Linked DNA regions of Homo sapiens. The protein of the gene in region 1 binds, or shares a complex with, the protein of each later gene. Each region holds a gene or a part of one and is shown on either strand. Other genes may lie near its edges. The genes, in order: SMARCA4 and DPF1.

Region 1 (3,807 bases):
AGAGGCACTCTTTACATCATGTGGGTGTTTTCTATAGCACCCTTTGTAAGGGGCAGCCCAGACTCCTTTAAGCCCCTAATGGATGTGGATGCTGTGTCTAGATTTTCACCATTGCAAAGAACCTTGCTAAAAGCATTCTTCCAGCTAAAGCCTCCATTCAATTCCCCTGGGGTAGTAAGCCATTTGCAAGAAGAGAGGCGCCTAATGAAAACATCACAAATTCTTTTTGATGTGTTTTTTTATACTGAGTTGTGGAACAGGGTCCTGTACACCTGGCTTCAAGGCTGGGAGGCCTGGCTTGGACATGTGGTCAGCCATATCACGTCGTCCCCCTGCCAGCCTCAGTGTCCACATCTACAACACTTGGGGTTTGGCTGGAGAGAACATGAGAAGCCGAGGTGGCCCTTCCTTCTGGGTCTAGCAGAGCATGGGTGTCTCCAGTGTGGCATTTGCTCCTGGGGCTTCTTTATCGGGCAAGGGGACAAGGTCTGGCTTCCCGGAGCATCCCTGTTCCAGCCCCGTGTTGTGCCGGCCATGTGACTCACAGCTCCTCTCATTTTCATGAGTGTCTGGGTTTGACGAGAAATACATGTGCCACCCTGGTGATACGCCTCCCCAGCGAGGGTGGCCGGGCTTATTTCAGTTGGGGGAAATGGCTTTGCTGAAGCTTTGGGTGGGTGACGTCTGCTTAGGATGCATGTCTGTGCCCTTGAACCCGGCGCCTGGCCTGGAGGCGGGCGATGCACCTCCTGCCTTACCTGCCTGCAGGGTTCCAGGTTTAACATCCTGCGCCTTCTCTCCTGCCTCCTCCACACTCCAGGCTGGACCTGTACCGAGCCTCGGGTAAATTTGAGCTTCTTGATAGAATTCTTCCCAAACTCCGAGCAACCAACCACAAAGTGCTGCTGTTCTGCCAAATGACCTCCCTCATGACCATCATGGAAGATTACTTTGCGTATCGCGGCTTTAAATACCTCAGGCTTGATGGTGAGTATGAGCCAGTGAGGCGTTTCTTACAGGGTTTTGTTGTTGTGGCTGCCACAGAAGCTCCTCACTGGCATTCCCTCCTGTGAGGCAGGGTGAGGCCCAGGCGCTCTGGGTCCAGTGGCCAGAGTGGGCCTAGCCACAGGCTGAGCATCTTGGGCACTCGGCACTGGGACAGGCCGTGGATTGGACGCCGGGTGTCCTGACTCCTAGGCTGACAGTCTTTCCACGACAATGCTGGGCGCACTGGGGAAGGGGTGCCCTGTGCACTTTTAGCTGGAAGTGACAGAATTCCATACCATGTGGACACAGGAAAGAAAGCACCAATAGGCTTACATAGCTCTAACCCCAGGAGGTTAAACATCCTTCAGGCACAGCTGGATCCAGGCATGCAGGTGATATTGGAGAGACTTTTCTCCAGCTCTTTGCTCTGCCTTCTTCCATCTTGGCTTCCTTTCCACCTGCTCAGTGTCCCCAACAAAGGCAGGTCCCAGGCTGGCTCTCATTTAGCTGCTGTGAGCCGCATGCCCATCCCTGGGCCATTCGTAGCAGCCCAGTGACTGCCACCTTGCCACAGGTCAGGCCTGGACCTGGAATCAGACTCTGTGGTGAGCACGGAGGGAGGGAAGCAAGCACTGCCAGGCAGGAGCAGCAGCTGCCGTAGAGAGGCTCTCAGCCCAACCCCCTGCCCTGCGGTCCCTGATGGGAAAGGTCACCGCCTGTGTTTCTGCGCCTGCCTGCCCCAGCACACGGGAGCTCAGGGAGGAGAGGCTGTGAGATGCCGACAGGGCACGTGAGACATGTCTGTCAGTCCCAGTGGGTCAGGGAGCCCTGGAGTGAGTTCTTCGTGGGAGTTACTAGAACTGGGCTTACGAGAAACACGAGCATGAGCTGCTGAGACAGACACGGCTCAGCCAGTTTGTTGTTCCCTACACGACCTCCCAGAGCCTTTGTTGAAGCTCCTGTGCAAGGTCTGTCTCACAGCAGGACACCCCAGACCTCCATACCCCTTGTCCCGTTGATCACTTGGACCTGTGTTTGCTGGGCCAACCTGCCCAGGTGCCACCCGGAGTGTGCCCTGTGTGTCCCTCCAAACTGCAGGTCCTCCCCGGGGTTCTGTCCAGGACCACTCTACAGACACGAGTCTGTTGCAGGGGTCTCCCCGGCTTGCCTTCTTCCTTGGGGGCTTCCCACTTTCAGCTTTGAGGCTGAAAACCAAAATCCTTCAGGGTCCTCATGGCCGGGCCACCCCCCACCCTTTCCTCTCCTACGGTCTCTCCAGCGGCTTCTCCCGTCCTCGAGAGGGCCAAGGCTTCCTGAGGGCCATCCCGTCTGTGTCGTGTCCCTGACTCCCCCAGGAGAGAGCCTGGTTCCCACCCATCCCAGTGCCCTTCTGCCTACTCCATAAGGACAAGGACTTTGGTCAGTTGAACTACAGATGTGTCCTCTGCATGTGATGTGGTCATGGCCACAGGGCCAGAGAATCCATTGCGAGTAGAGGAAGGGTAGGAGCTCAGTGAAGTCTCCTGAGACTGCATCTCCCATGGGTGGGCTGGCATCTGGGAGCCGGGTGGCCCCTCACCTCAGCCCCTCCTCCGAGCTGGAGTAGCAGGGGCACATCTGGTGCCTGAGAGAGGGTGGGACGGCAGGTGGATGGCCAGGCTACTGTGGGCTTCTGCACCGTGCCTGGGCATGTGTAGGCTGGTGGCAGGAAATGGCCAGTTTTTATTTCTTCTTTTTTTTGAGACGGAGTTTCACTCTTGTTGCCCAGGCTGGAGTGCAGTGGCATGATCTCAGCTCACTGCAACCTCCGCCGCCTGGATTCAAGCGATTCTCCTGCCTCATCCTCCCTGGTATCTGGGATTACAGGCGCCCGCCACTACGCCCAGCTAATTTTCTTGTATTTTTAGTAGAGACGGGGTTTCACCATGTTGGCCAGGCTGGTCTCGAACTCCTGTCCTCAGGCGATCCACCCACCTCAGCCTCCCAAAGTGTTGGGATTACAGGCATGAGTCACCGCGCCCGGCCTGCCAGTTTTTATTTCATCACCAAAATGACTTCAGTGTTCAGGGGCACCTCTGTCCGAACTCCCAGCAGCGCAGGGAGTGTTGACATTGCCTTAATGCCCACAACGCTGAGGGCATCGTGGGTTGTCACCCAGGAGACCTGCTCTGGCTCCTTGACTTGGGTTTTCTGGGGCATGGGGACACTGATCCTGCCAGAAAGGACACGAGCCCCCTTTATAAGGTCTCCATGCTTTTACCGTAGAAGATTCTCTTTGTGAACCACAAAACTTTTTGAGACAGGGCTGAAGGCAGGTGCACCCACAGTCACTGTCCACCCACCCCCAGGTCCCTTGTGTTGCGAGCGGCGGTGTTGCCGGCATTGGCCGCTGTGTCTTCCGCTCCCCATGGAATGGCACAGGGTAGAGTAGAGGAGAGAATCCAGGGCTGTGGTGGTGGTGGCTGTGCTGACGCTGGACGCTGTGGCCTAGCTGTGGGCTGGGTGCTGGACTCTGTGCTCCAGGCCCACCTCCTCTAGTTCTCCCAGCGGGGCCTGTTTTCATTTCTGGGATGTGTGGAGAGACGTTTTGTGGTGAAACACTGGAAATCCAGTTATTCGCCAGTGGCCCACAGGCCCGTGTGGAGAGTGCGGAGCCAGGGATCTGGGGATGCTGGCAGGTGCTGATCCTGCTCCTGCTCTCAGAAGCAGGTGTTCCTTGGTGTCCCCACTCTACCCCTGAGGTCACCCCGCTGACCCTGTTCTCCTCTGTGCCCGTCAGGAACCACGAAGGCGGAGGACCGGGGCATGCTGCTGAAAACC
Region 2 (3,807 bases), about 27 Mb from region 1:
GCCTCCCAAAGTGCTGGGATTACAGGTGTGAGCCACCACGCCTGGCCTGTTTTCTCACTTTCTTGGCCCCTCACTCCTGACTCTCCCCACAGGCATATGGCATCGGGGGTCTCCGGAAACGCCAGGACACCGCTTCCCTGGAGGACCGAGACAAGCCGTATGTCTGTGATAGTGAGTCCTTCTGAAGAGGGGGAAAGGCAGAGAGAGGGGTGCCCAGAGACTCCCCACCTCGTGGCCCTCTCCCTCCCGTTCCAGACCCGGGTTGGGAGGCTGCTCAGGTCTCTGGCTGAGGGGGGAGGTGTGATCCTGGAGGCCAGGGTGGAGGCGGCAGGGGCCCGGAGGGGCTGACAGGCCCTCCTGGCTCGCTCGCTCCCCAGTCTGTGGGAAACGGTATAAGAACCGGCCGGGGCTCAGCTACCACTACACCCACACCCACCTGGCCGAGGAGGAGGGGGAGGAGAACGCCGAACGCCACGCCCTGCCCTTCCACCGGAAAAACAACCATAAACGTGAGCTGGCAGGCCAGGTGGGGGTGGCCAGGGGCCCTGGGAGTGGGGAAGAGGAGCCCAGCTGGGGGTGGGGGTGGGGGGGCATTAGACATTTCTGGAAAATCTCCAGCTCAGCCGTTCCCTCCCCCCACCGACCATGGGGATGCTGGCTCCGGGGTTGCCATGGCAACCAACCATCGCTCCTTCGCTCCTGGCCGGGCGTAATATTTCTGGGTCTGATTTATTGTTTCAATTAGAGCTTGGGGAGGGGGGGTGATAGATGGCTCCCCTCCCGCCCTGCCTTCCCTTTCTCCTTTCTCTGCTAAGCTTTGGTCAAGGGGCAGGGTCTGTGGCCTGGGAGCCCTTGGCTTCCGCCCTTGCCAATCCCATGCCAGTTCTGACAGCTGAAGGATGGGGGAGGGGAGGAGGGTTTGGGAGAGGCAGTAGGGAGACACTGTCTTCCCACCTATCTCTCAGAGGCAGAGGCTGAGTGTCTTCACCCCTGGCCACTACACACCCACGCACCTCAGTGTTCGGAGTTTTTCTTCCGAGTGTCTGTTTCCATACCAGATCTTGGCTGGGGTACTCGCTGAATTTGTTAGATACAAATTACTGAGGGTGCAGTTGGGAGTGGCTGGCTGGGAGACATGTATGTGAGAAGGGAGGCAGGGAGCCCTTCCTCAAGCTGTCTACCAAGTTTTGACCCAATAAAGAGGACATGTCAGTTGTCTCAAGGAGTTGGGAATCCTGGCTGGGTGCAGTGGCTCACGCTTATAATCCCGCCACTTTGTGGCAGTGGCCGAGGTGGGAGGATCACTGGAGGCCAGGAGTTGGAGACCAGCCTGGGCAACATACCAAGACCCTGCCTTTATTTTTAATTGAAAAAAAAATTTAAAAAGGCAGAGTTGGGAGTCCCGATGAGAACTGTTTTCACCTCTCCCCACAGCTTGGGGTAGCTACTCACTCTTCCCAGCTCCCCACGCCTGGACTAAGAGGTCCATCCTTGGGGCTGAGGCTGGGGGCAGGGTGGAGCCTTGCCTGTGGTGAGAGTCCCTCTCTCTGTCCCCCCTACCCCAGAGTTTTACAAAGAATTGGCCTGGGTCCCTGAGGCACAAAGGAAACACACAGGTACGGATGCCTCCTTCTGCTCCTAAAGTCTGCAGCCACCTTTGCGGGGTGCCCTTGCCTGCCCCGTGCCAATGCCTGTCTGCTGTCTTGCAGCCAAGAAGGCGCCCGACGGCACTGTCATCCCCAACGGCTACTGTGACTTCTGCCTGGGGGGCTCCAAGAAGACGGGGTGTCCCGAGGACCTCATCTCCTGTGCGGACTGTGGGCGATCAGGTGATGCTCCCCACCTGAGGTTTCTGGGGGCCGGGTGCAGAGGACATTCAGGAGTGCAGACCTGGAGGGAGGGAGGCAAGGCGGTGAGGACCGAGGGGACCCGGAGCATGTAGGGGATACTGTGGATAACCAGAGCTAGCGAGGCTGATGCAACTGCTGAGGATTGTGGGAATTGGGTCGGATCAGTGAGGCTTTAGGGATAATGGGATGTGGCTCTCATGGCACTGTGGGTAGCTGCCTGTGCTTAGCATGGCATCAAGAGTAGTGAGAGGCCAGGTGTGGTGGCTCACGCCTGTAATCCCAGCACTTTGGGAGGCAGAGGTGGGAGGATCACTTGAGGCCAGGAATTTGAGACCAGCCTGAGCAACATAGCAAGACCCCCATCTCTACAAAAAATTTAAAAATTATCCAGGTGTGTTGTTGTGCACCTGTAATCCCAGCAACTCAGGAGGCTGAGGCCGGAGGCTCCCTTGAGCCCAGGAGTTTGAGACCAGCCTGGGCAACATAGTGAGATCCCATCTATATATAAAAAAAGTTAGCTGGGCATGGTGTTGCACCCCATTAGCCCCAGCTACTCGGGAGGCTGAAGTGGGAGGCTCGCTTGAGCCCAGAAGGTTTTTGTTTTGTTTTGTTTTGTTTTGTTTTTTGAGACAGAGTCTCCCTCTGTCACCCAGGCTGGAGTGCATTGGCATGATCTTGGCTCACTGCAACCTCCGCCTCCTGGGTTCAAGTGATTCTTGTGCTTCAGCCTCCCGAGTAGCTAGGATTACAGGCACCCGCCACCATGCCTGGCTAATTTTTAATATTTTTAGTAGAGACGGGGGTTTCACCATGTTGGCCAGGCTGGTCTCAAACTCCTGACCTCAGGTGATCTGCCTGCCTTGACCTCCCAAAGTGCTGGGATTACAGGCGTGAGCCACCGCAGCACCCAGCCCCTTGAATCTGGGAGTTTTTGACTAGCCAGGGCAACATAATGAGAGCCCATCTATTAAAAAAAAAATAGGCCAGGCTGGGTGATGTGGCTCACATCTGTAATCCCAGCACTTTGGGAGGCTGGGGCGAGCAGATCATGAGGTCAAGAGATCAAGACCATCCTGGCCAACATGGTGAAACCCCATCTCTATAAAAATACAAAATTTAGCTGGGTGTGGTGGTGCGTGCCTGTAGTTCCAGCTACTCCGGAGGCTGAGGCAGGAGAATCGCTTGAACCCGGGGCTCAGAGGTTGCCATGAGCCAAGATTGCACCACTGCACTCCACCCTGGGTATCAGAGCAAGACTCCGTCTCAAAAAAAAAAAAAAAAAAAAAAGGCTGGGCATAGTTTCGCACCCCATTAGTCCCAGCTACTCGGGAGGCTGAGGTGGGAGGATCGCTGGAGCCTGGGAGGTCAAGGCTGCAGAGTGCACTGTGATGGTGCCACTATGCTGCAGCCTGGGCAACAGAGTGAGACCTTGTTTCAAAAACCAAAACAAGACAAAAGGAGTAGCAAGAGACAGGGGCCAAGGCATGGCAGGTAGTGGGCTGTGTGGTGTGAGTGACGGACACCACCACCTGGGCACCGGTAGCAGGATGAGCTCGCCATAGAGTTGTGGTTAACAGAATGTGGTTTCCCATGGTGGGCTTGTGGGCAATATAGACTCTGGTTGCCTCAGCACAGTAGGTCATGAATTGTGGTTGTCGTGGCATCATGGGTAGTGAAATATGGTTGTCATGGCAACTCAGTATAATGGAATGTAGTTGTGATGGCACCGGGGCCGTGGTTGCAGGGGGCGGGCGCCATGGGTCGTGGCTGCAGGTAGCGGCTGCGGGTGTCTCTGCAGCGGGGCTGTGGAATGACTAAGCCTGGCGCTGCACAGTGCTGTGATGTGAGTAACAGTTTTGTTGCTGGGGCACCAAGTGGAATGGACTTCAGTTGCATGAAACCGAAGTGTGGGGACCCCGTTGTGGAAGGTGGTTGCCATGGCATTGTGGCTGGGAGA

The links.
Region 2: SMARCA4 (region 1) and DPF1 share a complex: the UniProt entries of both Homo sapiens proteins name them as parts of the neuron-specific chromatin remodeling complex.

Annotation. Positions count from the first base shown.
Region 1 is NC_000019.10:11,026,964-11,030,770, forward strand, and holds part of SMARCA4 (SWI/SNF-related matrix-associated actin-dependent regulator of chromatin subfamily A member 4), read left to right. Parts: intron 1-820; coding exon 821-987; intron 988-3,766; coding exon 3,767-3,807. UniProt on the Homo sapiens protein: ATPase involved in transcriptional activation and repression of select genes by chromatin remodeling (alteration of DNA-nucleosome topology).
Region 2 is NC_000019.10:38,214,162-38,217,968, reverse strand, and holds part of DPF1 (zinc finger protein neuro-d4), read left to right. Parts: intron 1-92; coding exon 93-171; intron 172-377; coding exon 378-509; intron 510-1,565; coding exon 1,566-1,616; intron 1,617-1,709; coding exon 1,710-1,829; intron 1,830-3,807. UniProt on the Homo sapiens protein: May have an important role in developing neurons by participating in regulation of cell survival, possibly as a neurospecific transcription factor. Belongs to the neuron-specific chromatin remodeling complex (nBAF complex).